Homo sapiens: one gene and its partners. The protein of the gene in region 3 purifies or fractionates together with the protein of the main gene of each other region. This does not show direct contact. Each region holds a gene or a part of one and is shown on either strand. Other genes may lie near its edges. The genes, in order: HPRT1, ALDH6A1, GPI, RIDA, MT1X, GLOD4 and FDX1.

Region 1 (4,529 bases), on a different chromosome or scaffold from region 3:
CTTTAAAATATATTAGATAGCTCTAGACACACTAATATTAAAAGTGTCCAATAACATTTAAAACTATACTCATACGTTAAAATATAAATGTATATATGTACTTTTGCATATAGTATACATGCATAGCCAGTGCTTGAGAAGAAATGTGTACAGAAGGCTGAAAGGAGAGAACTTTAGTCTTCTTGTTTATGGCCTCCATAGTTAGAATATTTTATAACACAAATATTTTGATATTATAATTTTAAAATAAAAACACAGAATAGCCAGACATACAATGCAAGCATTCAATACCAGGTAAGGTTTTTCACTGTAATTGACTTAACAGAAAATTTTCAAGCTAGATGTGCATAATAATAAAAATCTGACCTTGCCTTCATGTGATTCAGCCCCAGTCCATTACCCTGTTTAGGACTGAGAAATGCAAGACTCTGGCTAGAGTTCCTTCTTCCATCTCCCTTCAATGTTTACTTTGTTCTGGTCCCTACAGAGTCCCACTATACCACAACTGATACTAAGTAATTAGTAAGGCCCTCCTCTTTTATTTTTAATAAAGAAGATTTTAGAAAGCATCAGTTATTTAATAAGTTGGCCTAGTTTATGTTCAAATAGCAAGTACTCAGAACAGCTGCTGATGTTTGAAATTAACACAAGAAAAAGTAAAAAACCTCATTTTAAGATCTTACTTACCTGTCCATAATTAGTCCATGAGGAATAAACACCCTTTCCAAATCCTCAGCATAATGATTAGGTATGCAAAATAAATCAAGGTCATAACCTGGTTCATCATCACTAATCTGAAAAAGAAATATAGCTGTTTCAATGAGAGCATTACAGGATACAAACATTTGATTGGATTAAGATGTTAAAAAATAACCTTAGTCTATCAGAGAAATTTAGGTGTAAGATGATATTAGTAACTGTTAACTTTGTAGGTATGATAATGAATTATGTAAGAAAACAACAGGCCGGGCGGGTTGGTTCACACGTGTAATCCCAGCACTTTGGGAGGCTGAGGCAGGCAGACTGCCTGAGCTCAGGAGTTCGAGACCAGCCTGGGCAACACGGTGAAATCCCGTCTCTACTAAAAATACAAAAAAATTAGCCGGGTGTGGTGACACATGCCTGTAGTCCCAGCTACTTGGGAGGCTGAGGCAGGAGAATCACTTGAACCTGGGAGGTGAAGGTTGCAGTGAGCCAAGAATGCGCCACTTCACTCCAGCCTGGGAAACAGAGCAAGACTCTGTCTCAAAAAAAACAAAACAAACAAACAAAAAAACAGGCTGGGCGCGGTGGCTCACGCCTGTAATCCCAGCACTTTGGGAGGCCGAGGCGGGTGGATCACCTGAGGTCAGGAGTTCCAGACCAGCCTTGTCAACATGGTGAAACCTCCCCCCGCCGTCTCTACTAAAAATACAAAAATTAGCCAGGCGTGGTGGCAGGAGCCTGTAATCCCAGCTACTTGGGAGGCTGAGGCAGGAGAATCGCTTGTACCCAGAAGGCAGAGGTTGCACTGAGCTGAGATGGCACCATTGCACTCCAGCCTGGGGGACAAGAGCGAGATTTCGTCTTTAAAAAACAAAAAACAAAACAAAAAACCATGTAACTATATGTCTTAGTCATCTTAGTCAAGAATGTAGAAGTAAAGTGATAAGATATGGAATTTCCTTTAGGTCACAAAGAGAAAAAGAAAAATTTTAAAGAGCTAAGACAAACGCAGCAAAATCTTTATATTTAATAATATTCTAAACATGGGTGATGAACATACGGGTATTCATTATACTATTCTCTCCACTTTTGAGTATGTTTGAAAATTTAGTAAAACAAGTTTTAACACACTGTAGTCTAACAAGATAAAATATCACACTGAACAGGAAAAACTGGCATGGTGTGGTGGCTCACACTTGTAATCCCAGTGCTTTGGGAGGCTGAGACAGGAGAGTTGCTTGAGGCCAGGAGTTCAAGACCGACATGGGGAATGTAGCAAGACCCCGTCCCTACAAAAAACTTTGTAAAAATTTGCCAGGTATGGTGGTGCATACCTGTAGTCCCAGCTACTCGGGAGGCGGAGGCAGAAGGAATCACTTGAGCCCAGGAGTTTGAGGCTGCAGTGAGCTACGATCATACCACAGCACTCCAGCGTGGACAACAGAGTAAGACCCTATCTCAAAAACAAAACAAAACAAAACAAACAAAAAAAACCACAAGAAAAACTGCTGGCTGATGCAGCGGCTCATGCCTGTAATCCCAGTATTTTGGGAGGCCCAGGTGGGCGTATCACCTGAGGTCAGGAGTTAGAGACCAGCCTGGCCAACATGGTGAAACCCCATCTCTACTAAAAATACAAAATTAGCCAGGCATGTGGCACGCGCCTGTAGTCCCAGTTACTGGGGAGGCTGAAGCAGGAGGATCACCTGAGCCCGGGAGGTGGAGGTTGCAGTGAGCCGAGATCACACCACTGCACTCCAGCCTGGGTGACACAGCAATACCCTACCTCAAAATAAAAAAGAAAAAGAAAAGAAAAGTTGCTGTCCCCGCTACCCCAATCCCAAATCCAAACAGCCTCTCTCATCTCACAGTAAGGGGGAAAAATCACCCAAAAAAGCTAAGTGATCTTTTGAAAACCCAAACTCTTAGAAGTCTAAGATTATTATAGTCAACTCATGAAGTGTCATCATAAAAGATACTCTAATATTATTTAAGTAGAACCACATATTGGTTGTCTTGGTATGTCTAGCCCCTGGCATACAAAATATTTAATAACACTGATATGGTACCTGTGATGTGAAAATGTACTATGAGTACAGCTTTATAAATACTATATATGTACCTATATACAGAAAAAAATACAACAAAATCATAAAAGCACTTATCTTTGAAAGAGGAGTTACAGCAATTTTATTTAGTTCTTTATTGCTTTGCTATATATTCTAAATTTTTTTCAATGAATATATATCACTTTTAAAAAAATTCAATGGTCTTTCTTATAAATTATCTTTGGCAGCATGCGTTTTTATATATACATATAAAATGTATGGGAAATTTTTAAAGGATACATTAAATTAAAGCAAAATATACAAACAAAAAATCAGAATACAAAAAGATAAAAAGATTGGGAAGGGAGGGAGGGAGTAAGGAGGAAGGGTGGGTGGGTATAGAGAAATATACCAAATAATGGTAAGAAGTGGGGTCTTGACACTTTCTACACTTTTTTTAAATAAAAAAAATTTTTTTCTCTCTCTTTTTTTTTTTTAGAGACGAAGTCTCGCTATGTTGCCCAGGCTGGTCTTGAACTCCTGGGATCAAGAGATCCTCCTGCCTCAGCCTCCCAAGGTGCTTGGATTACAGGTGTGAGCCACCACGCCTGGTCACTTTCTACACTTTAATATATATATTTTTTCATTTTCAATGTCATTTTTATTAGTTAATTTATAATACCCATTCACCATTATATTCAAAGTCTATTTGAAGAAATAAACCAGAAAGAATGAAATACTCTAGCTCACATGCTATTCAATACTAAATTACCTTTCAAATCACATTCAAGAAGCTGATGATTTAAGCTTTGGCGGTTTCCAATAAATATTGGTCAAACCATAATTAAATCTCAATATATCAGTTAGTACCTATTGAGCATCTCCTTTTACAACCTAAGCATTGTATTAGGTGCTTAAATACAAGCAGCTTGACTTTTAATACATTTAAAAATACATATTTAAGACTTAAAATCTTATTTATGGAATTCAGTTATATTTTGAGGTTTCCAGTGCTGAGAAATTTGAGGTTTGTGCTGTCTTTCAGTCCCCAAAGCTCAGTTCTGAGTTCTCAGACTTTGGTGGAACTTCATGTATTGTCAGGTTGGCCCGTAATACCTGTGGGACAACTTCAGCCCCTGTGCACATGGCCAGGAGGCTGGTTGCAAACATTTTCAGGTAGGTGGACCAGGACATGCCCCTGGTCATGGCCAGGTGGAGGCATAGTGCTATACAGCAGGCAGAAGTCAATATTGATTTGTTTTTAAAGAAACATGTACTACTTTCATAAGCAGAAAAAATTTCTATTCTTGGGGGAAAAGATTATGCCAGATCCTCTAGGATTAAATGCTGATGCATCTGCTAAACCTTCACATATCAGAACATATTTACTATAGAAAGAATGAAAATGGGACATTTGTGTGTCACCTATGTGAACATTCCAAAAATATTTTACAACAACTAAGTATTTTATAAATTTTATGAACTGAAATTTAGTTCAAGTTCTAGGAAAATACAAACCTTGCTAGATATTATAAAAATGATACAATATATATTCATTTCAGGCTCATCAGAATATATCTGTTATCACTTGACAAGAATGAAAATGCACCATTTTGTAGTGCTTTAAAATCAGGAAGATCCAGAGTACTAAAAATGACTTCTTCCTTGAAGCTTACTCACCAACTTCCTCCCAGTTACTCACTGCTTCTGCCACAAGCATAAACTAGGACCCAGCCAGAACTCCTTGAAATATACACTTGCAACGATTACTGCATC
Region 2 (4,000 bases), on a different chromosome or scaffold from region 3:
ATCTGGTTTCATTGTTACACTAGGCAGTTCCCTATAGAAACTTTGCGGGGGTTAATAGTCCTGAGGAAGATTTTAGTTACAATGTATTCCAATCCCATCGATCTGATCTGAGCAAAGCTGACAAATGAAGCTGGTCAAAAATAAAGGGAGATTACTCAGGATGGAGTCAGTCTTAAACAAACTTGTTTCTAACGGCCCATGGTAGGCATGACAACAGCAGGTGAGGAAAGAGTAGCATCTTCTTCTTTCCACTGAGAAGTAATGGTCTTTAACTGAGTGTAGAATTGGATGCCCTAAGGAAAACAGAAAAAAAGTTAGCATATATTTCTGGGGTTTCATGATTCTTCTTTTAATTAGCTTTTGAAGGAGGTATTATAAAGTGCTACTCACTTTCCTAATTGAGAAATGCAATCAGAATCCAATATATATTGTTCCTAAGATAATTGATCTAAAACATTTAACATAATACCTGGCAGATAGTAAACAATCAAACCTTAGCCATCATTATTATGCTGAAACTAGTATTTCTTTCTTTTTTGTTTGAGATGGAGTCTTGCTCTGTCACTTAGGCTGGAGTGCAGTGGCATGATCTCAGCTCACTGCAACCTCTGCCTCCCGGGTTCAAGCAGCTCTCCTGCCTCAGCCTCTCGAGTAGCTGGGATTACAGGCACCTGCTACCACGCCTGGCTAATTTTTGTATTTTTAGTGGAGATGGGGTTTCACCATGTTGGCCAGGCTGGTCTCGAACTCCCGGCCTCAAGTGATCCGCCTTCCTCGGCCTCTCAAAGTGCTGGAATTACAAGTGTGAGCCACCGTGCCCCCAGCTATTATATAGTAGGCCATTTATTTATTTATTTATTTATTTTGAGACAGAGTCTTGCTCTGTTGCCCAGGCTGGAGTGCAGTGGTGTGATCTTGGCTCACTGCAACCTCTGCCTCCCAGGTTCATGTGATTCTCCTGCCTCAGCCTTCTGAATAGCTGGGATTACAAGTGTGTGCCACCATGCCCAGCTATTTTTGTATTTTTAGTAGAGAAGGGCTAATTTCAGATTAGCCCATGTTGGCTAGCACCATGTTGGCCAAGCTGGTCTTGAACCCCTGACCTCAGGTGATCCGCCAGTCTTGGTCTCCCAAAGTTCTGGGATCACAGGCATGAGCCACTGTACCCAGCGGCCATTTCTGATAATTATCAGAGATCATGAGCTCTATATTGAAGTGGCAAACCCAAAGTATCTTAGAAATCTAAAGTAAAATGTCTGACATTATACAAATTCACTTCTCAATTACCTATAACATGTGAGCCCAAAAATTCAGCATATTTAACTCTCTCTATATATAGATATAGTTTATAAGAGTAGGCTTGAGCAAAAGAGAATACATTGTGCAGATCTAACACTTATATAATTACTAGCAAGCTAGAATGACATTTTACCAGATTACCAGAGTAATTTATAATAATTAAACTGGGGGGTGCAGCCAGGAGCGGTGGCTCACACTTGTAATATCAGCACTTTGGGAGGCTGAGGTAGGCGGATCACTTGAGGCCATGAGCTCAAGACCAGCCTGGCCCAACATGGCGAAACCTCGTCTCTACTGGGAAAAAAAAAAAAAAAAAAAAAAAAAAAAAGCTGGGCGTGGTGGAGCCTGAGGCAGAATTGCTTGAACCTGGGAGGTGGAGGTTGCAAGTGAGCCGAGAATGCACCATTGCACTCCAGCCTGGGCAACAGAGCAAAACTCCCATCTCAAAAAAATAAATAAATGGAGAGGGTGGGCAGGGAACAATTTTTAAACAATAGTTGTACTCTGTTTTGCTTAAAAGAAATGTTACTAGTATCAAATTAGTCATTTTTACAAAAGCTGTGACTAGGCCGGGTGCGGTGACTCACTCCTGTAATCCCAGCACTTTGGGAGGCCGAGGCAGGCAGATCACCTGAGGTAAGGAGGTCGAGACCAGCCTGGCCAACATGGCGAAACCCCGTCTCTACTACAAATACAAAAATTGGCGGGTGTGGTGGCACGTGCCTGTAATCCCAGCTACTCGGGAGGCATAGATACGAGAATTGCTTGAACCCTGGAGGCTGAGGTTGCAGTGAGCCAAGATCATGCCACTATACTCCAGCCTGGGTGACAGAGAAAGATTCCATCAAAAAAACCCCAAAACAAAAAACCAAAAGCTGTGACTAATATACAAACTATATAATCAACCTCCAAATACCAAAGTGTTGACTTCTTAACCATTTGGCCACACTGTCATAATGCTATGCAATCCCATTGTTAATTTTTTAATAACCCAAACATAAATAAAATAAAAAAGCCCCACATCCCTCGCCCTGTGGCAGCACATAGCTGGCACAGAAAAAAAAAATCAACCTATAAAAGGGGAGACTTGTATAACAAAACATGTAATTTATTAATGAAGGTTTCAAAATGGCTCTAGTCCTATGACTAGAAAGAACTTCCCCTAGCCTATTTGTTCAACAAATGTTTGGGCAGCCTGCTCTGTTCCAGGTACTGCAGATAAGTAGATAACAACTACAGTCTGATGAGGGCTTCTTTAAATGGCTTAAAGAGCCCTACATGACTCAACCCCTGCCTGCCTCTCTAACTTCATTTCTTCCTTTTCTTCTCATTTGCTCACTGTGCCCCAGCCCATTTCCGCTGTCTGAATGTGCCATGCTTCTTCCTGCCTCGGGACATATGCACCTGTTGGCCGATGTGGCAATAGTAATAATTCTTCTTTTTTTTTTTTTTGAGATGGAGTCTTGCTCTGTTGCCCAGGCTGGAGTCCAGTGGTGCAATCTCGGCTCACTGCAACTTCCGCCTCCCAGATTCAAAGGATTCTTCTGCCTCAGCCTCCCGAGTAGCTGGGATTATAGGCACCTGCCACCACACCTGGCTAATTGTTTTATTTTTAGTAGAGGGGGTTTTGCCATGTTGGCCAGATTGGTCTCAAACTCCTGACTTCAGGTGATCTGCCTGCCTCAGCCTCCCAAAGTGCTGGGATTACAGGCGTAAGCCACTGCACCTGGCCAATAGTGATAATTCAGTCCTTACAATGTTATGAAATACATAGGTACTATTGTTATTCATTTTATACGTGAATAAATTTAAGGCATAAAGAAGGTATCCTGGTTGGCTGTGGTGGCTCATGCCTGTAATCCCAGCACTTTAGGAGGCTGAGGCAGGCGGATCACCTGAGGTCAGGAATTCGAGACCAGCCTGGCCAAAATGGTGAAACCCTATCTCCACTAAAAATACAAAAATTAGCCAAGTGTGGTGGTGGGCATCTGTAATCCCAGCTACTTGGGAGGCTGAGGCAGGAGAATTGCTTGAACCTGGGAGGCGGAGGTTGCAGTGAGCCAAGATTGTGCCACCGCACCCCAGCCTGTGCGACAGAGTGAGACTCTGTCTCAAAAAAAAAAAAAAAATTAATGGTATCCCCCAAAGTCAGACAGCTAATAACTGGCTTAGCTGGGATTTGAACACAGGCAATTTGGTTCCAGATCTGCTTTACTTTTCTTGTTCAGTGCTGTATTCATAGTGCCTAAAATAATGTCTGCTACAGACCGGGCAGAGTGGCTCACACCTGTAATCCCAGTGCTTTGGGAGGCTGAGGTGGGTGGATCACAAGGTCAGGAGTTCAAGACCAGCCTGGCCAACATGGTGAAACCCTGTCTCTACTAAAAAACAAAAAATTATCCAGGCATGGTGGCAGGCACCTGTAGTCCCAGCTATTCGGGAGGCTGAGGCAGGAGAAGTGCTTGAACCCAGGAGGCGGAGGTTGCAGTGAGCTAAGACCATGCCACAGCACTCCAGCCTGGGCAACAGAGCGAGACTGTGTCTCAAAAAAAAAAAAAATAATAATAATAATAGTAATAATAATGTCTGCTACAAAGAACGTGCTCAACAACATTTTTTGTAAATGAATAACTATTACAGAAAAAATACGTGCAATGGGAACACACTGGGGTCACACTACCCAGCACTGAGGGAGGGGTGG
Region 3 (4,529 bases):
AAAAGCAAGTCTTGGCTGGGTGTGGTGGCTCATGCCTGTAATCCCAGGACTCTGGGAGGCCAAGGTGGGTGGATCACCTGAGGTCAGGAGTTCGAGACCAGCCTGACCAACATGGTGAAACCTCATCTCTACTAAAAATACAAAAATTAGCTGGGTGTGGTGGCGGATGCCTGTAATCCCAGCTACTCAGGAGGCTGAGGCAGGAGAATTGCTTGAACCTGGGAGGCGGAGGTTGCAGTGAGCCGAGAACTCGCCATTGCACTCCAGCCTGGGCAACAGAGTAAGACTCTGTCTCAAAAAAAAAAAAGCAAGTCTCCTTTCCCGACTGTCAAAGGTTTGTTATAATGAAGCATCCCAGAGGAAAAATGTGTCTTTTTTTTTTTCTTTTTGAGACAAAGTCTCACTCTGTTGCCCAAGCTGGAGTGCAGTGGCGTGATCTTGGCTCACTGCAACCTCCACCTCTGGGGTTCAAGTGATTCTCCTGCCTCAGCCTCCCGAGTAGCTGGGACTACAGGCATGCACCACCATGCCAGGCTAACTTTTTTGTATTTTTTTTTAGTAGAGATGGGGTTTCATTATGTTGGCCAGGCTTGTCTTGAACTCCTGACCTCGTGATCCACCCACCTCGGCCTCCCAAGGTGCTGGGATTACAGGTGTGAGCCACTGCACCAAGCCAAATGTGTCTATCTTTATTACAATTACACCCAGCCTTCATTTGACCAAATGAGTCTTTACCATACCCACCAATTCTGCAACTTCCTTTTTCAACTTCCCAGTCCATCCTGAACAGCATGGCAGATCAATCCAACTATAGCTCCCTAATCCCTATTGGTGCCCAGGATGACAGTATATGAATATGTGCTGACTCTACTTTGTAAGTCCCCTGACAAATGAGTACAGCTTGGTTTCAGGTTTTGCCACTACAATCAAGGTCACAGTGAACGTCTTCACCCAATCTTGGCAAACTTTGGAGAGCACAGCCATGGGGAATGTTCCTCACCAGGGGATTACTGCCATTCAGCAACTTTTTTTGAACTATAAATACCTTATCAGCCTGAGTCAGGTACTCCAGTGGCCAGCTTTAAGGGAAGGCTTTCCTGGAAACAGCACCCCAGACGGTGCAGTGCCATCCTCGCCATGTGGCATGGCTGAGCACACCCAGACTGATCACACAGCACTAGGCTTTTAATGCACTTCAGCTCTGCCACTCACAGCAGATGGCTGGAAAGGCCCCGCCACACACCCAAAGACCATCACATGGACTGATCACCCTAAGTGACATTCAGGAAATCCAGATTCCCATCAGGACCCCACAACTTCCTTGCCCTGGAGGCGTCTCACTCTGTCACCTGAGCTGGAGGACAGTGGCACAATCTCAGCTCAGTACAGACTCAACCTCCCGGGCTCAAGCAATCCTCCCACCCCAGCCTCCCAAGTAGCTGGGATACACCACCACACCTAGCTGATTTATTTATTTTTTCCAGAGATGGGTTGGTTTTTTTGTTGGTTTTTTTTTTTTGAGACAGAGCCTCACTCTGTCACCCAGGCTGGAGTGCAGTAGCGTGATCTTGGCTCACTGCAACCTCTGCCTCCCGGGTTCAAGAGATTCTCCTGCCTCAGCCTCCCCAGTAGCTGATATTACAGGTGCTCGCCACCATGCCCGCCCAGGTAATTTTTTTGTATTTTTAGTACAGACGGCGTTTCACCATGTTGATCAGGCTGATCTCAAACTCCCGACCTCACATGATCCACCTGCCTCAGCCTCCCAGAGTGCTGGGATTACAGGCGTGAGCCACTGCACCCAGCCCATTTTCAGGTCTGAAAGTGGCTCTTGGCCAAAGTAACTGGACTCTGACCAGCCACACATGGAGGCCACTGCTCCTAGGACAAGCAGCAAATGATCACAGCTGACAAGAGTTTGGACGATCACCCTCGTAGCATGCACAGCCCACACAGGCACACCGGCATCACCCTCGTTCTCCAGACGTGAGGATGTCTGCCAACCCACCCCTGCAGAATCACCGCTAGGGTAGACACTGAGGCAAGTGCTTGATGTGGGGAAACTTAGCTGGTCTCTGAGGCAACCCCTACCACCCTACACACAAGGAAAAGAAGGCATGTTACATGCACTGTCACTGACACACGGACACTGCTTACATACTTCCAGGTGGAAATAAGCTTCAGAGGAGCAGGGAGAAAACCAACCTGTGTGCATGTGCACATGTGTACGTGTTTCAAAGAGGAGATGACAGATGTGTATGTGCACAGGAACTTTCTGGAAGACTTCACAGGAAAACTTTTCTATTTTTTAAATTTATTTAGAGACACGATCTTGCTGTCGCCCAGGCTGCAGTGCAGTGGTGTCACCATGGCTCACTGCAGCCTCAACTTCCCAGGCTCAAGCCATCCTCCCACCTCAGCCTCCTGAATAGTTGGGAATAGAGGTATGAGCTGCTGCGCCTGGCTACAGGAAACTTTACAAAGGCTGCTTCTGGAGGGTTAGCTGGGAATGGGGATGAGGAAATTTTTTTTTTTTTTTGACAGAGTCTCCCTCTGTCGCCCAGGCTGGAGTGCAGTGGCGCAATCGCAGCTCACTGCAACCTCTGCCGCACGGGTTCAAGCGATTCTCCTGCCTCAGTCTCCCAAGTAGCTGGGATTGCAGGCGTATGTCACCAAAACTGGCTAATTTTTGTATTTTTAGTGGAGATGGGGTTTCACCATGATGGCCAGGCTGGTCTCGAACTCCTTACCTCAAGTGATCCACCCACCCCGGCCTCTCAAAGTTCAGGAATCACAGGCATGAGCCATCGCGCCCAGCCAGGGTTGAGGAAATTTTACAATGTTTTATCTGTTTCTAGACTGGGTGATAAGGGCGTATGACAAAAGAGATTAGAAAAAGCTCCTTCCGGCCAGGCGCAGTGGCTCATGCCTGTAATCCCAGGTGAGGCAGGCAGATCACCTGAGGTCAGGGGTTTGAGACCAGCCTGGCCAACATGGTGAAATCCCGTCTCTACTAAAAATACAAAAATTAGCTGAGCAGGGTGGCGCATAATTGTAATTCCAGCTACTCGGGAGGCTGAGGTAGGAGAATAGCTTGAATCCAGGAGGCGGAAGTTGCAGTGAGCTGAGATAGCACGACTGCAGTCCACTCTGGGCGAGAGAGTGAGACTCCATCTCAAAAAAAAAAAAAGAAAAAAGAAAAAGCTCCTTCCTTTCCTGACTGTCCTGTCTCTCAGGGGCCCCACTTTTCATTTGAAGCCTCTGTGGTTTGTCACCATGAGTCCATAGGTGTCTACAATTCAGGAAAGAAACTGGCCCCACTTCTGCCAGCAGCAGATTCCTTCAGAGCAGAGCCAGGAGAAATTCAGGCCTCAGCAGAGACTCCAGGGTCAGCGATCACACAGGCAACCCCTCCCTTAAGCTGCAGTGAGAACCTGAGTCCTGCCTACAAGAAGAGGGAAGAGCTGCCCCTTAGGGCTCCCAGATTCCCAAATAACTCACACACACGGCCAAGGGTGAGTCCGGCCCAGTAGCCACTTACCTGGCAGAAAGACTTCATCTTGTCCAGAACCTTGTTGACCTCTGGCATCACATCCTTGCCGTCTACCAGGATGGGTGTGTTTGACCGGTTCCGCAGAGCCACGTGCAGCACGGCTCGACCCTGGGGATTACGGTCAGGATATAAAGACTGCCCCCCCCAACCCCAGGCAGCCATGCTCCCAGCTGGGCATGGTGCCATAGCTCGGCCCTCTATCCACTAGACAGGCAGGCCCTGAGGTCTCTGTTAGCACCATAACCTTGTTCCAAGAACCCACTGTATGCTTAGAGGAGTAGGAGCTCCCCAAGGACTTATGTGCTGCAGACAGTCAGGAGGAGAGGAGGGGACCCATATATGCCTAGGACAGGCCCCGAAGGCCTGCCAGAGATGCTCAGGGCATGAACAGTGAGAGAAAAGAGGAACAGTGAGCAAAGGCAGAGAATGGCAACAATACATGTCAGAAACAAGCAATAAATGCTTTCAGAGGCCGGGCGCCATGGCTCACGCCTGTAATCCCGGAACTCTGGGAGGCCATGGCAGGTGGATAACTTGAGGTCATGAATTCGAGACCAGCCTGGCCAACATGGTGACATCCTGTCTCTACTAAAAATACAAAAATCAGCCAGGTGGGGGTGGCACACACCTGTAGTTCCAGCTACTCAGGAATCTGAGGCAGAGAATCGCCTGAACCCATTAGACAGAGGTTGCAGTGAGCCAAGATCGCACCACTGCACTCCAGCCTGGGCGACAGAGCAAGACTCCATCTCAAAATAAATAAATAAATAAACGCTTTCCGAAGATGAGTGCTCATGAAGCCTGAAGTAACCTCATCCTCCCAATGTGTGTCCATGGTGTTTGCTGGCACGTTTTAGGCAGTGTCCTCAGCTCCTTGGATTTGCAGCAAGGCATGCAACTCAAGCTTCCCTCACCAAGCAGCCCGATAACTACCAACTGCCAGGAACCAAACCAGACTTGAAGTCTGTGACGGGTG
Region 4 (5,260 bases), on a different chromosome or scaffold from region 3:
TTTACCTCCAAATTTCTATCAGAATTACTATCAGAATTCTTTTTAAAAGATCTGATCATGTTCCACCCTGCTTAAAAACATTTAGCCTGGGCAACATGGTAAAACCCCAGCTCTATAAAAAATACAAAAATTATCTGGGCATGGTGGCCTGAGCCTGTAGCCCCAGCTACTTGGGAAGCTGAGGTGGGAGGATGGCTTGAGCCCGGGAGGTTGAGGCGACAATAAGCTGTGATCCCGGCTCCAGCCTGGGTGACACAGCGAAACACTGTCTCAATATACACACATACAAACACACAACCACAACAACCACAAGAAAAAAACCACATTTAATTGTTCCTTATTATATACAAAATAAAGTTTATATTCTTCCATTTAGTATTGGAAACCACCACAACCTGTACCCTGCTAAAATCTTTTTTTTTTTTTTTTGAGACAGAGTCTCGCTCTGTAGCCCAGGCTGGAGTGCAGTGGTGCGATCTTGGCTCACCGCGACCTCTGCCTTCCAGGTTCAAGCAATTCACTGCCTCAGCCTCCCGAGTAGCTGAGATTACAGGCATACGCCACTATACCCAGCTAATTTTTTTTTTTTTTTGGTATTTTTAGTAGAGACGGGGTTTCACCATCTTGGCCAGGCTGGTCTTGAACTCCTGAGCTTGTGATCCACCTGCCTCGGCCTCCCAAAGTGCTGGGATTACAGGTGTGAACCACTGTGCCTGGCCAAAATCTAATTTTTGTTGGTCACTTTTATTTAATTCCCACAATAATCTTATCAAATGGTATTATTTATGCCCATTGAGAAGACAAAGAAGCAAACTAAGAGAGGTTAAGTCACTCTGCAAGATCATATAATTAAAAAGAGGCAAAACAAAAATTCAAATCCAAAGTCCAACTCTTAATCAGTATTTCTCAAAGGAGTCAGTCATACACAGTAAGACTTATACACAGTCTTACATAGTAAGAAAATGATTCCTTTTCCAATTTTTTTTTTCAATCTACACCAGGGACAACAAAGTAAATGATTAAGACTAGGCTCTAGTACCCATTTCCTAAATTCAAATTTTGTTACATCACTTTTTAGTGGTGTAACTTTTGGCAAATTATTTAATTTTGCACACATCAGTTTCTTCATCTGAAAAATAGGGACTATAATATAACCATGCACATAAATAACTTAGAACAGTGCCTGGTGCTGGCCAGGCATGGTGGCTGACACCTGTAATCCGAGTACTTTGGGAAGCCGAGGTAGGTGGATCGCTTTAGGTCAGGAGTTCAATACCAGCCTGACCAACACAGTGAAACCCTGTCTCTACTAAAAATACAAAAATTAGCCGGGTGTGGTGGCACCTGCCTGTAATCCCAGCTACTTGGGAGGCTGAGACATGAGAATCACTTGAATCTGTGGGGTGGAGGTTGCAGTGAGCTGAGATTGCACCACTGCACTCTAGCCTGGGCAACAGAGTGAGACTCTGCCTCCAAAAAAAAAAAAAAAAAAAAAAAAAAAGGGATAGTGCCCAATGCTGCTGAGTAAGCATCAGTAAATGTTAGCAATGATGACTCTACCCCGTTTGATTACATTAAGGAGAAAAAAAATCATCTTTAGAAAACAAATTAAAACATCACTTGAAAGTTTTTAATTAAACTTTTTTTTTTTTTTAAATAGAGATGGGGGTCTCACTATGTTGCCCAGGCTGGTCTTGAACTCCTGACCTCAAGCAATCCTCTTACCTCGGCCTCCCACAGTGCTGGGATTACAGGCGTGAACCACAGTACCCGGCTAAAGAAACATCACTCTTAACAAAGAGAGAGCAGGCCTCAGGTTTTGAGCCAACTGCAATATCTAGCTAAAATTTAATAATACCTTTTTTTAATTGAGTTTATTTTTTACTATTACTTTCTATTGAATTGTTTTCTATTTAGTGTACTGTTGTAAAGTTTCCTTTTTCAATTAACTTGTTAAATAAAATGAAGTGAGCCATCTCAAAGAAATAGGTTAAGTAAATTATAAGTGATATACAGATTTGGCAAACAAACAAACAAAAAAGACAGAAGTAGCACTTGAATTATGAAAACTTTCTCCCCAAAATCTTTATACCATGCATTCTTCTACCTCCATGCCCTCACTCAAGCCATTCCCTCTACCTGACTTCTACCTCCATGCCCTTCACTCAATGACTTCCTGTTGAAATCCTTAATAAATTAATTTAAAAATCAAACTTTACAACACTACTATAAATGACAAAACCAACCTTCAAAACCAAAGGACTACCTCTCACAAGGAACCTTCCTAAATCTTCTTTTTCCTCTTCCACCCCAAGTTAAAATCAATTTGTCTTTTTTCTCCTTTACTCCCTACCCCACTTGCCCTCTCACTTCTACTGCATTTTATTTATTTCCAAGTTTTCTATAATAATTCCTGTTCTGCCACATCTCAGTGCCTTTTCTCACAGCAGTAGGTTTAAAGGAGGGAGCTGTTGATGGGGCTCTTTTCAGTTGGGAGAGAGGCAGACCAAGTATGAAGCTAATGAAAGAAGTTGGTCATAAAGGACTGCATGTTTTATGATTCAATTTATAGGAAATGTCCACAACAAGCAAATCCATGAAGATGCAAGTAGATTGTCAGGGGCCGGGGGAGAGGAGAATGGGGAGTGAATGCTAATGGGGATGGGATTTATTTTTGGGGTGATGAAAATGTTCTGAAGAAAGTGGTGATGGCTGCACAACTCTGTGAGTATGGTCAAAACCACTGAATTGTACATGTTAAAGGGGGTGAATCTTACGGTACGTGAATTATATCTCAATAAAGCTGTTACCAAGAAAACAAAAACGACCCCCTCCCCCAAAACAAAACACAGGGTCTGAAGGCTTCTAACTGGGGAGAGCTTTCTGGCAGGCTGTGCTCCGCAGCGAGGCAGCCCCAGAACGAGCAAAGTCCCATGGAGTGCAGGTTCCTGGTCCCATCGTGGCTCCCAACTCTCTGTGGGTCTTCGGGCGCGTTGCTTACTTTCCAGGCTCAATTTCCTTGCGTGTTAGCTGGGGCTCCGGCCCGGAGTGGCCCCAACCCCGAATCCCCGAACCCGCACGCCCTGGGTCCGACACAGCTTCCACCAGCCACGTTACCTGTAGGGTCCAATGGCCCCTGGGGCTTTCGCGGTGCTGATCACCCTTCTGATCAAGGACGACATGGCTAAGCCTTCCCTCTTGCAGCCCCTTCAGGAGAAGAAGCCCCAGCACCAGCCCTGCTGGCTTCTTACTGGACTGACCAACCACAGCAGCGCCTCTGCCCCACAGCTCCCGCTGGGGGCGGGCTCGTGCGGCATTCTGGGAACTGTAGTTTCGGCGACGCTCCAGGCCACGTGGAGGAAGCGCCCGGTCTGGCGCATGCGCTCTCCAGCGCGCTCTCCAGGAGCTTTGGCTCGGTGGGTACTGTCGCGGAGGCTTGTCATTCTGACCCGGGGATTCCTCACAGCGTCTGGCAGGTTGGTCGTGAGGGGCTGGTGCCTTCCAGGATGCGAGTGTCGGGGGAACTGTATGCGGCGGCCCCCCTCCCGGCGCCCGTCTCCCCTCTTCATCGTTTCTCTCTCAGACTCCGCTGACCTCTTTCCTTGCTGCCTGTGCCCGGGGCCCCTCTCCCTGGTGTCGCATCTCCTTCGGCCCCTGCGCTGGAGCCCCCTACGTCAGTCATTTCCCTTCATTGCCCCGCCGGGTGGAGGCCGTCCTGGGAATGGGCTTGCATCCCCTCTTCTGCAACCCCAAATGACTAATATGGGTCATTCTGGCGACCACGCTGAGATCTGGGCGTTGGTCCTCCCGTGTTCCCTTTCCTGCTCCTCCTGTGTTCCCTTCTCTAGGGTGCTCCTCGGGCTTTACAAGGTCACTGTCTGAACAGAGCCCTAGTGATTGGGATATCATTTCAGAAAGAAAGATGGTGATCTGGAATGGCCCAGATCCCTTGTAAGTATTCTGCTGTGTCAGAAGGGGTGGTACTTGGCTAAATATTTCTTATCCTGTTAATATTTGCATTGTAAGTACGCTTCGTTTCTTCATTTATGCGGGCACTCATAGATATATGAGTCCCTACTTTGTGTAAGGCACTCTGCTAGATGCTAGGAGGAATGCAACAGTTAAAAAAAATAATAATAAAATCTCTGCCTTCCCTGCTTCCTAAAGATAATACAAGAAAATCTGCTTTATTCCCTCTCATTTTGTCCTACATACTGCTAAGGTTTTGGCCTTCCTACTTCCGGCTCAGGAACCTTCTGATCTTTTTCATTGGTTTGGGGCCTGGAATAAAAGACCTTTCAGTCTGGCCTCCCCTTGCCTATTCAAGTTTCATTGTCATCTACTCCCTTTTCCCACTAGAGTCCTCCTGTATTCACACTGTGGATTCCTGAATACTCTTTCTTCCTTATCTGTGCAAATTCCAGCTAACTGAAATTCTATTTTCTCTTTGACTTTTCCTACCAATTCACATTTTTTTCTTTTTCTTCTTTCCTTCCTTTCCTTTTCTTTTTCTTTGTTTTCTTTCTTTCAAGACAGGATCTCACTCTGTCACCCTGGCTGGAGTACAGTGGCATGATCTTGGCTCACTGAAACCTTGACCTCCTGGGCTGAAGCAATCCTCCAGCCTGAGCATCTCAAGTAGTTGGGATTACAAGTGCACACCAGCACGCCCGGCTAATTTTTGTATTTTCTGTGGAGACGGGGCTTCTTCATATTGGCCAGGCTGGTCTCCAACTCTTGGGCTCAAGCAATTCTCCCACCTCAGCCTCCCAAAGTGCAGGGATTACAGGTGTAACCATTATGCCCGGCCTCATTTTTTTTCTTTCCCTTGTCCTGTTTCCTATTGTGCTGTACCGCATAATTTAGTATTTTATTATATGAGATCCTATTTTCTAATTGTTATGTGTTTCAAGAATAGTGGATTGGAGAGGGAAGGGGTGGAAAAAAAAAAAAGAATAGTGGATAGAGTCAGACTGCCTGGTTTGAATCTCAGCACAATCACAAGCTTAGTAGCCTTGGACTGGTATATAAAATCTCTGTGCTTCGATTTCTTCATTTATAAGATGAGAATAATACTAGTGACCACAGAGTTGTGAGAATTAAATGAATAAGTCATGTAGAATAGTGCCTGCCACATCAAGTTCTCAATGCTGCCTAAGATGACAAAATTCTTATTCTACTTTGGAATTATACACAGCCTGAAACTATTGGGCACATAGTAGGTGCCCAAAAGTTTATTAAATCTGATTAAACTAGATAA
Region 5 (3,598 bases), on a different chromosome or scaffold from region 3:
TCCCCACTTCCAGACCTTTGCTGGAGCTGTGCCCTCTGCAGGAATGCAGCTCTCAGATCCCAGTGGAAAGAGTTCTTCATTTGGGCTCACCCCAAGTGCATTCAGTCACAGTACTTTCTCCTTTATAAGATTCCTTATTCTATAATTCTCTCTCCCCCCAGCAGTCCATAAGCTCCCTGTTCCCCTCACCACTGAGGACCCCATGCCTGTGTATGCAGTAGGTGCACCATAGGTGGCTGGTGAGTATAGGCTGTGTCACAGCTACACAAAAAGGGCAGCTACTACCAGTTAACCGTTGCTAGAGGGTGGTAGAATAAACCCCCTAGTTTGCCATAGTTCACAAAGGAGAGCCAAGGCCAGGCAGGATTGCAGGAACCTTGCACCCAGACCCCCACTGCCATGGTCCCCTCTCTGAAATGCCCCACAATCTGGGTTTCCTACAATCCAACTGGAACCAAGTGCCATATACCCAGTGACAAATGAGGTGCCCAGAGCCAGAATAGTCTAGATGAATTTATTGCCATTCACATATTTCATAGAAAAAAAGATGTAGCAAACGGGTCAGGGTTGTACAAAAAAAAAAAAAAAAAAAATCCAGGTTTATATAGGTTGCTCTATTTACATCTGAGAGCACAGCTGTCCTGGCATCAGGCACAGCAGCTGCACTTGTCTGACGTCCCTTTGCAGATGCAGCCCTGGGCACACTTGGCACAGCCCACAGGGCAGCAGGAGCAGCAGCCTGGAGAAGAAGGGGAGAGTGAGAGGTCAGAGCAGACTCAATCAGGCACCTCCCTGCCCCAACAGAGGCCTGGCTCGAGCCCTGCCTCCAGCCCCAGAGGACCATCATTTCAGGATGGCATGGCTTTGTCAGAAGAGAACTGGTAGATCTTTGGGATGAGGGTTTTATATGAAAAAGCTGCCCAGCCCCACCTGAGTCTGGGACAGGACAGAAGACTGGACAGGTAGTGATTGGGGGTACAGGAACAAAAGGAGGCCAGTTCCCCAAAACCTACCCTTAAATGAGGAAAGTCTTCACAGCCGGACAGGGGGCAAATCCCTGACACAGCAGTTCTGGGGAAGGCTAGGGAAGCTCTGGGCTACCCCTGCAGGAAAGGACTGGATCATTAGGTTTGAAATCACCCGGGGTCTTCCAGATCCTGGGCCTTAAGTGCTTCAGGACCCAGAAGGGTGAAGAAGGCTGCATCAGGAGGCAGGAGACCTAGGTTCACATTCCAGCTTTGTTCCCAACACTATCTGGTAACCTCTCTGGGCCTCAGTTTCTAGTTTGGTAATAAGAGGCTGGGACTCACCCATTTTTAAGGCAATTTGAGGTCTGATTCTGAATCAGGTGTTGAAGGAGGGGTTTGGGGAAGCTGGTCATTGGCCTGCCCCTGCCTGCAGAGCTCTGGGTTCCCTGCTCTAACTTGGCCCATCCCCCAGATTCGCAGGGAAGGCCCTGCACTCACTCTTCTTGCAGGAGGTGCATTTGCACTCTTTGCATTTGCAGGAGCCGGCACAGGCACAGGAGCCAACTGCAAGGAAGAGAAAAAGGCAGTGAGCGTGGAGTGAGATGCAGAAGGTACAGCAGCTGGTCAATAACGCTTCAGTGACCCCTCCTCTGTGCTGAAGGACCAGCCCCCAGAGCTCCTTTCCCACTCAGGGGAGAGGAAGAGAAGCCCCATCTCCTCTCCCTTCATTTTGGGAAGGGCAAGTGTTCTGTTGCTTTTACCCCACAAGCAAGGTCCCAGGCTCCAGACACAGCCCAGGAAGGCTAAGACAGGAGGCCAGAACCTTCTGTCCTGAACTCCGAAGAGGCAATGGCCCCCCACTTCCCATCCACCCTGACTGCTCAGAGCCTGGTCAGAGCATTGGGGCTCAGCCAGCAGCCCCCTGACCAACTGGGTGACATGGAGCAGGACAGCCTTGGGCCTCAGTACCCTCAACTCTAACTTAGAGGCACAGGGAGGCGAGAAGTGGTCTCAGGGACGTGATCGGGAAGAAAGCACCTAACGAAATAAAGGAGCCCCTTCAGCTCAGAACTTTAAATGCGACTTCTTCAAACCCAGGAAGAGTCTGTACTGTGGCTGGGAAACGGGCATCCCAAGGCGCGGAGCTAGGTGTCCCTTACCAGGCGAGCAGGAGCAGTTGGGGTCCATTTCGAGGCAAGGAGAAGCAGGAGTTCCCGATCAAGAGGAAAACACGCAGCGGGACAGATGAAAAGCGTGGTGGAGCCCAGAAGCCGGCGGCTCTCTTTATAGTCCGGGAAGAGGGCCGGGCGCAGAGGCCCCGCCTCGTCCTTGCACCCGCCCCTGCTGAGTCTGCACCGCCCGCGATCCTGGGCCGGGTGCAGCAACCCGTGAGCCCAGCGCCGGGCGCACCGCGGGGCCTGCCCCTTTGGCTCCACCTCGTTGAGAACCTGGCAGTACGTGGCGTCCCTGGCGTCTTGCCTGCCCAATTTCCCTGACATTGCCTGCCTCTCCCTCTCCTAGGCGTGCCGGGAAACTCGGAATCCCGGCGGTCTACACACCCCCAGCCCCCGCTCCACTGTGTGTAGCTTTGCATTTCCCAGAGTCCCTGGATCACGTCCCTGGATCGGCGGGAGCGGTGAGCATAGCGAGGGAGCAGTGTGCAAATGAGAGGCAGAGGATGTGACACTCGGATTTCCTGCATTGCCGGTCCCTGTCCCCGTCCCCACCTCGGTCTGTTGGCCACGTTTCTCTTATGTCTAGGGACAGAACAGACACAGGGCTCTGCCCCCGTCCTTGCATTCTCCACTCTTGAGAGGCTGAATGGGCACATTTGCCCAGGTCCTCCTTTGCATAAAACTCTCCAGGTCTCCCCATAGCCTAGCCGGGCACCCCACCACAGGATGACAGTTTGGAAAATGTGGAATGCTCCCAGAAAAGGGATCATTTTAGGTGATATGCGGATTCCGGATTAAATTAAAATGCAAGAAACAGGGTTATTTTTCCTTCCATATTCCTATTACTCTACATAACATTAATCCGTGTTAGGCCCTTTTTAGTCACTTTGCATCGTTGAACCCTCACAGCAACCCTAAAGGGACATACTTCTATTCATGAACCCATATTCTAATCTGAACAACAACAATAAAAGGAGTTCAAGCCACCAGCCCAGGGTCAGAGGGCTGCGAAGTGACACTGCTGGGTCTGAATCCGGTCAGCGTCCCAAAGCAATGATGAAGCTTCCCTTTGGCCTAGATATATTCATCTCTTTACTGCTTGAAATCTTTAAACAAAACCAAGCATCAAGGTCAGTCCTGGAAGCAAAACAGAGATGCAGAGGGGATATGAATAAGCATAATTTGATGGCAACCTTCTATGTCTGGAAGTTAAACTGATTCTTTTTTCAGTGGTGCTAATGAGTTTGCTTTTCATATAAAAATATCTAAGGAAATAGGAATCATTTGAAAGAAAAACGTTAAGTCACATATTGGTGCAGGTGGTAGCAGAACTGGCAGGTATCCTTCCGTTTCTGTGATGGGGACAGGGACTATCTTGCTCATGGCTTTATATTTCTGGAGTGAATCCCTATTTTGTGGGCAGAGTGCAGGACACTGTCAGGACCACAGGTCAAT
Region 6 (4,529 bases), on a different chromosome or scaffold from region 3:
ATGGTGGAATCTCAAAACCATGTTGAGTAGGCCGGGCGCGGTGGCTCACACCTGTAATCCCAGCCCTTTGGGAGGCCAAGGTGGGTGGATCACAAGGTCAGGAGATCGAGACCATCCTGGCTAACACGGTGAAACCCGTCTCTACTAAAAATACAAAAAATTAGCCGGGCGAGGTGGCAGGTGCCTGTAGTCCCAGCTACTCGGTAGGCTGAGGCAGGAGAATGGCGTGAACCCGGGAGGCGGAGCTTGCAGTGAGCAGAGATTGTACCACTGCACTCCAGCCTGGGTGACAGAGCGAGACTCCGTCTCAAAAAAAAACAAAAAACAAAAAACAAAAAAAGCCATGGTGAGTAAAAGCAGCCAGGCACAAAAGGAAAGAAAATACTGAATGACTCCATTTGTATGAAGTCCAAGAACGAACTCACCTACAGTGACAGAAGTCAGAATAGCAGCTGATCTGGGAGATGAAGGTGCCAACTCACTGGAGATGGGCATGAGGGAACTTCCTGGGAAAATGGTCTGTATTCTGAGTAGTGGTTGTATGAGTAAACACAACCGTCAAAACACATTTAAATTCTACCTAAATTATGCCTCATCAACAACAACCACCTGTCTGAGCTGAGGAAGGAGTTAAAAACTGGAAGTGAGGAGGCTGGAGCCAGGATGATGGTTACGTTCAGGGCAGAGGTAAGGAGAGGTCGCAGGTAAGCTCTCATCAGAGTGGAGGAAGAATGCAGAATGGGAAAAACAGCAAAGTAGGGCTATGGGTATAAAAACACTTTGGGATGAGACACAGAAAGAGGTGCCCGTGTCTGAGGAGAAACTGTCAGGAAGATGAAAATGGTAGGATGGCCAGGCGCAGTGGCTCACGCCTATAATCCCAGCCCTTTGGGAGGCCGAGGAGGGTGGATCACCTGAGGTCAGGAGTTCAAGAGACAGGGTTTCACCGTGTTAGCCAGGATGGTCTCGATCTCCTGACCTTGTGATCCGCCCGCCTCGGCCTCCCAAAGGGCTGGGGTTACAGGTGTGAGCCACCGCACCCGGCCTACTCAACCAGCCTGACCAACATGGTGAAACCCCATCTCTACTAAAAATACAAAAATTAGCCAGGTGTGGTGGTGCGTGCCTGTAATCCCAGCTACCAGCTACTCAGGAGGCTGAGGCAAGAGAACTGCTTGAACCTGGGAGGCAGAGGTTGCAGTGACCTGAGATCGCGCCACTGCACTCCAGCCTGGGCAAGAGAGTGAGACTCCCAACTCAAAAAAAAGAAAAATGGCAGGATCGCTAACAGCAGAGGAGAAGAGAGCTCAGGGAGCAGGAGTTCATCAATGGTTCACATCTATAATCCCAGCACTTTGGGAGGCCAAGATGGATCGAATGATTGAGCCCAGGAAGTTTGAAACCAGCCTGGGCAACATGGTGAAACCCCATCTCTAGAAAAAATACAAAAATTAGCCAGGCATGGTGGCGCACGCCTATGGTTCCAGCTACTAGGGAGGCTGAGGTGGGAGGATCACTGGAACATAGGAGGCGGAGGTTGCAGTGAGCTGAGATCATGCCACTGCACTCCAGCCTCGGTGACAGAGAGAGACCCCGTCTTAAAAAAAAAAAAATGGGCCCAGGCGTGGTGGCTCACGCCTGTAATCCCAGCACTTTGGGAGGCCAAGGCAGACGGATCGCCTGAAGTTAGGAGTTCAAGACCATCCTGGCCAACATGGTGAAGCCCCGTCTCTACTAAAAATACAAAAATTAGCCAGGCGTGGTGGCACGTGCCTGTAATCCCAGCTACTTGGGAGGCTGAGGCAGGAGAATCGCTTGATCCCGGGAGGTGGAGGTTGCAGTGAGCCAAGATTATGCCACTGCACTCCAGCCTAGTTGACAGAGCAAGAATCCGTCTCAAAAAATAAATAAAATAAAATGGGCCAGGCACAGTGGCTCACACCTGTAATCCCAGCACTTTAGGAGGATGAGGTGGGTAGATCACTTGAGGCTAGGAGTTTGAGACCAGCCTGGCCAACCTGGCAAAACCCTGTCTCTACTAAAAATACAAAAATTAGCCAGCATGGTGGCAAGTGCCTGTAGTTCCAGCTCCTTGGGAGGCCGAGGCAGAAGAATCGCTTGACCCTGGGAGGCGAAGGTTGCAGTGAGGCAAGATTGCACCATTGCACTCCACCCTGGGCGACAGAGCTAGACTCCATCTCAAAAAATTTAATTCAGTAATTAATTTAATTAAATTAAGAGCGAGGAGGAAGAGTCTGGCAAATTTGTCAGCTGAGAGGATGACAGATTCTACTTTCCTTCAGGATAAAATGTATAAAGACTGTATTTTCTATACATTGCCTGCTTTAACGTTAATTGTGCATCTACTATTATGTCAGTAATTTGCCAAGCTCTATAAACCATAACAATCTTATGAGATAGATCCTCTTATTTTCTGAAATTTTTGGATAAGAAGACTAAAGTTCAAAGAATTTAAGTCAACTGTTTAAGGTCAGTCACAGAGTTACGTGACAGAACCAAGAAAGACCAATTTGTTCCTTTAATCATTCAACAAAGTATTTGCAGAACGTCTAGTACATGCCAGGTATGTGCTAGGAGCTAGGATCCAACAACTACTTTGAATGCTTCTGAATTACTGAGTTTGATGAGAATCTAAAAGTAGTTGCTATATTTGGCAAGAAACAAAAGCACTTCACTGAGTAACAAGAGCCAGTGCAAAACAGACTGAAGTGAAAATGGGAGGCGAGAAAGAGAAACAGTGCACACTCAGATTTTTAGAAGAAGAAATCTGGAGAGGACGTAAGAGGGAGAAACAGCGCGCACTCAGATTTTTAGAGAAGAAATCTGGAGAGGACGTAAGAGAGAGAAACAGCGCACACTCAGATTTTTAGAAGAAGAAATCTAGAGAGGACGTGAGAGAGAGAAACAGCACGCACTCAGATTTTTAGAAGAAGAAATCTGGAGAGGACGTGAGAGAGAGAAACAGCGCGCATTCAGATTTTTAGAAGAAGAAATCTGGAGAGGACGTAAGAGAGGGAAACAGCGCGCACTCAGATTTTTAGAAGAAATCTGGAGAGGATGTGAGAGAGAGAAACAGCGCGCACTCAGATTTTTAGAAGAAATCTGGAGAGTATGTGAGAGAGAAACAGCGCGCACTCAGATTTTTAGAAGAAGAAATCTGGAGAGGACGTAAGAGAGAGAAACAGCGCGCACTCAGATTTTTAGAAAAAATCTGGAGAGGACGTAAGAGAGAGAAACAGCGCGCACTCAGATTTTTAGAAGAAATCTGGAGAGGACGTGAGAGAGAGAAACAGCGCGCACTCAGATTTTTAGAAGAAGAAATCTGGAGAGGACGTGAGAGAGAGAAACAGCGCGCACTCAGATTTTTAGAAGAAGAAATCTGGAGAGGATGTGTGAGAGAGAAACAGCGTGCACTCAGATTTTTAGAAGAAATCTGGAGAGGACGTGAGAGAGAGAAACGGCGCACACTCAGATTTTTAGAAGAAGAAATCTGGAGAGGATGTGTGAGAGAGAAACAGCGCGCACTCAGATTTTTAGAAGAAATCTGGAGAGGATGTGAGAGAGAGAAACAGGGCGCACTCAGATTTTTAGAAGAAGAAATCTGAAGAGGACGTGAGAGAGAGAAACAGCGCGCACTCAGATTTTTAGAAGAAGAAATCTGGAGAGGACGTAAGAGAGAGAAACAGCGCGCGCTCAGATTTTTAGAAGAAATCTGGAGAGGACATAAGAGGGAGAAACAGCGCGCACTCAGATTTTTAGAAGAAATCTGGAGAGGACGTGAGAGAGAGAAACAGCGCGCACTCAGATTTTTAGAAGAAATCTGGAGAGGACGTGAGAGAGAGAAACAGCGCGCACTCAGATTTTTAGAAGAAGAAGTCTGGAGAGGACGTGAGAGAGAGAAACAGCGCGCACTCAGATTTTTAGAAGAAGAAATCTGGAGAGGACGTGAGAGGGAGAAACAGCGCGCACTCAGATTTTTAGAGGAAGAAATCTGGAGAGGACGTGAGAGAGAGAAACAGCGCGCACTCAGATTTTTAGAAGAAATCTGGAGAGGATGTGAGAGAGAGAAACAGCGCGCACTCAGATTTTTAGAAGAAGAAATCTGGAGAGGACGTGAGAGAGAGAAACAGCGCGCACTCAGATTTTTAGAAGAAATCTGGAGAGGATGTGAGAGAGAGAAACAGCGCGCACTCAGATTTTTAGAAGAAGAAATCTGGAGAGGATGTGAGAGAGAGAAACAGTGCGCACTCAGATTTTTAGAAGGAGAAATCTGGAGAGGAGATATGGGGTCAGTAAAAGGTTTTTAAAGGATGGGAGCTTTCAGCGCCTGTTTGCACGCTGGCGAGAATAACTCACTGGAAAGAAGAGACTGATGCTGCAGAATGGAGAAGAGATGATCAAAGGAGCTGCAGAGCTGAGGGGATCAGATGGAGGCATCTCCCTGGGGAGAGCTGAGGGGAACGGATGGAGGCATCTCCATGGGGAGAGCTGAGGGGGTCAGATGGAGG
Region 7 (2,219 bases), on a different chromosome or scaffold from region 3:
AGAATAGTTGGGAGTGATACTGTGTCACTTCCACAACTAGCTCATAAAGAGGATCCAGTTCTGCCTGGCATGCATGCTCTTCTGAGGATGCCTGCCCTTGGAACCCAGGCGCCAGGTTGTGAGGAAGTCCAGGCCACACAGAGAAGCCACGTGTGGGTGTTCCAGCCAGTATCTTCTCCTAGACCCCCCAGCTGATGCCAACAGCAGACACCAGTCATATGAAGAATATGCCTGAAGATGATTCCAGAACCTGGCCTTTGAGTCATCTAGCTTAAGACCTAATACATTGTGGAGCAGAGACAAGCTATCCCTGCTCCGTACTCTAAATTCTTGACTCACAGGAACTGTCTGAAATAATACAAGATTCTTGTTTTAAGCTACTAAGTTTTGGGGTAATTTGTTTTGCAGCAATAGATAAACCAACACATTTACCTACAACACACATATATCAAATACAGAAGGATTTTTTCAAACTGAAAAATCACCTTTATACAAACCAATTATAGATTATATCCTCCATTTAATAATTTTAGAAGGTTTTATAAAATAACACAATTAAACTTCATTTGAACTTTTCTAATTTGAAATATAAGACAATTTATACTCTAAATTTTAGAGTGCTTTGGTTGAATATAATCATTAAAGTAGCTCTGGAAGGAGAGTTTAGGTAATCCACACACAAAGACAAGAATAATGAAGCTAATTAAGAGAATAAATTGGCTTTGAAGTACTTTAAAATTATAGCACTGCTATGGTTTGAATGTCCCCTCCAAAACTCATCTTGAAATTAAATTGCCAGTGTAATGGCATTGAAAGGTGGGTCCTTTAAGAGGTGATCTCCTTTAAGAGCAGAGACCTCATGAATGGATTAATGCCGTTATCTCAGGTGTGGGTTAGTTATGTCAGAAGTGGGCTCCTGATAAAAGGATAATCATTTTGCCCTCTTGCTCTCACTCGCATTCTCTTGCCCTTCCACCATGTAATGATGCAGCAAGAAAGCTGTCACCAGATGCCAAGCAGATGCTGGTACCATGCTCTTGGACCTCCCAGCCTCCAGAACCATGATCCAAATAAATCTCTTTTCTTTATAAATTACCCAGTCTGTGTTATTCTATTATAGCAACAGAAAATTAAGACAAGCACTCTCCACATAGAAAGCATTCAATAGTTATGGCCAAGCACGGTGGCTCACATCTGTAATCCCAGCATTTTGGGAGGCTGAGGTGGGTGGATCACTCGAGCTCAAAAGTTCAAGACCAGCCTGGGCAACGTGGTAAAACCCTGTCCCTAGAAAAAATACAAAAATTAGCCAGGCGTGGTGGTCCGTGCCTGTAGTACCAGCTACCTGGGAGGCTGAGGCACGAGAATCCCTTGAAACTGGGAGGCAGAAGTTGCAGTGAGCCGAGATCATACTATTGTACTCTGGCCTGAGTGACAGAGTAAGACCCTGTCCCCCGCTCCCCCCACCAAAAAAAAAAAAAAAAAACTACTCAATAGTTATTAAGCATCAAATGATACTTCAAGTTCTTCCTAATCACTTTTTACATATGAATTAGTTTAAAATCTTATTTAGCAGAACTAGTCAGTTTAGTTCAAGCAAATTATCTGCACATACATACATATTTTATATTTTCCTAATAAAAGGTGAATTCCCTGATGGCATTCCTTGTCTTGTTCACCTCTGTGTCCCCAATGGGCATAACACAATGCTGTATGTCAAGCATTGTACTAGACAAATATTTATATAAATGATCAAGCTGCAATAATACACATGAAGCTAACTCAATTGTCTTATAACCTCTTTCTACTAATTTGTTCTGCTCTTCCTCACAATTAGTCCAAGTTAGTTGATGTTTTATTATATTTCCAAAGACCATACTGTGTACCCCTTTGTTAACTTTTATGAATTTATTTATAGTAAAGATAAGAGTACGAATGTCTTCCACACATACGTGGTAATCTGTGGTGCTTGCCACTCCCTCACTCCTGGGACTGACACACTGCAGCCCACGCTGCTCACCCTGCAGCCCCATCCTTGCGTGAGAGAATGGCGCCACCTGGGGCTGTGCAACGTGTCAGCCTGCTCATTCCCTTCTCCAGCTCAGGACAGAGAAACACAATTCATTCATAAGGTTTCCATTCTGTTATAGGCAGAGATTTATAAATCAGCATTATTTTTCAAAGAGTACAAAGTTAAACCATTCTGCTTAGAAAAGAAT

What was found.
Region 1: the proteins of GPI (region 3) and HPRT1 purify together in Homo sapiens (affinity purification with mass spectrometry, with the first as the bait; one large-scale study listed by BioGRID). This does not show direct contact.
Region 2: the proteins of GPI (region 3) and ALDH6A1 fractionate together in Homo sapiens (co-fractionation; one large-scale study listed by BioGRID). This does not show direct contact.
Region 4: the proteins of GPI (region 3) and RIDA fractionate together in Homo sapiens (co-fractionation; one large-scale study listed by BioGRID). This does not show direct contact.
Region 5: the proteins of GPI (region 3) and MT1X fractionate together in Homo sapiens (co-fractionation; one large-scale study listed by BioGRID). This does not show direct contact.
Region 6: the proteins of GPI (region 3) and GLOD4 fractionate together in Homo sapiens (co-fractionation; one large-scale study listed by BioGRID). This does not show direct contact.
Region 7: the proteins of GPI (region 3) and FDX1 fractionate together in Homo sapiens (co-fractionation; one large-scale study listed by BioGRID). This does not show direct contact.

What each region holds. Positions count from the first base shown.
Region 1 is NC_000023.11:134,469,624-134,474,152, reverse strand, and holds part of HPRT1 (hypoxanthine-guanine phosphoribosyltransferase), read right to left. Parts: intron 795-4,529; coding exon 688-794; intron 1-687. UniProt on the Homo sapiens protein: Converts guanine to guanosine monophosphate, and hypoxanthine to inosine monophosphate. Transfers the 5-phosphoribosyl group from 5-phosphoribosylpyrophosphate onto the purine.
Region 2 is NC_000014.9:74,060,454-74,064,453, forward strand, and holds part of ALDH6A1 (methylmalonate-semialdehyde/malonate-semialdehyde dehydrogenase [acylating], mitochondrial isoform 1 precursor), read right to left. Parts: intron 294-4,000; coding exon 189-293; 3' UTR 1-188. UniProt on the Homo sapiens protein: Malonate and methylmalonate semialdehyde dehydrogenase involved in the catabolism of valine, thymine, and compounds catabolized by way of beta-alanine, including uracil and cytidine.
Region 3 is NC_000019.10:34,367,715-34,372,243, reverse strand, and holds part of GPI (glucose-6-phosphate isomerase), read right to left. Parts: intron 3,662-4,529; coding exon 3,542-3,661; intron 1-3,541. UniProt on the Homo sapiens protein: In the cytoplasm, catalyzes the conversion of glucose-6-phosphate to fructose-6-phosphate, the second step in glycolysis, and the reverse reaction during gluconeogenesis.
Region 4 is NC_000008.11:98,113,915-98,119,174, forward strand, and holds the start of RIDA (2-iminobutanoate/2-iminopropanoate deaminase), read right to left. Parts: upstream 3,258-5,260; 5' UTR 3,183-3,257; coding exon 3,118-3,182; intron 1-3,117. UniProt on the Homo sapiens protein: Catalyzes the hydrolytic deamination of enamine/imine intermediates that form during the course of normal metabolism. May facilitate the release of ammonia from these potentially toxic reactive metabolites, reducing their impact on cellular components.
Region 5 is NC_000016.10:56,681,099-56,684,696, reverse strand, and holds MT1X (metallothionein-1X), read right to left. Parts: upstream 2,228-3,598; 5' UTR 2,157-2,227; coding exon 2,129-2,156; intron 1,533-2,128; coding exon 1,467-1,532; intron 740-1,466; coding exon 648-739; 3' UTR 501-647; downstream 1-500. UniProt on the Homo sapiens protein: Metallothioneins have a high content of cysteine residues that bind various heavy metals; these proteins are transcriptionally regulated by both heavy metals and glucocorticoids. May be involved in FAM168A anti-apoptotic signaling.
Region 6 is NC_000017.11:764,698-769,226, forward strand, and holds part of GLOD4 (glyoxalase domain-containing protein 4), read right to left. Parts: intron 1-4,529.
Region 7 is NC_000011.10:110,463,166-110,465,384, reverse strand, and holds the end of FDX1 (adrenodoxin, mitochondrial precursor), read right to left. Parts: 3' UTR 501-2,219; downstream 1-500.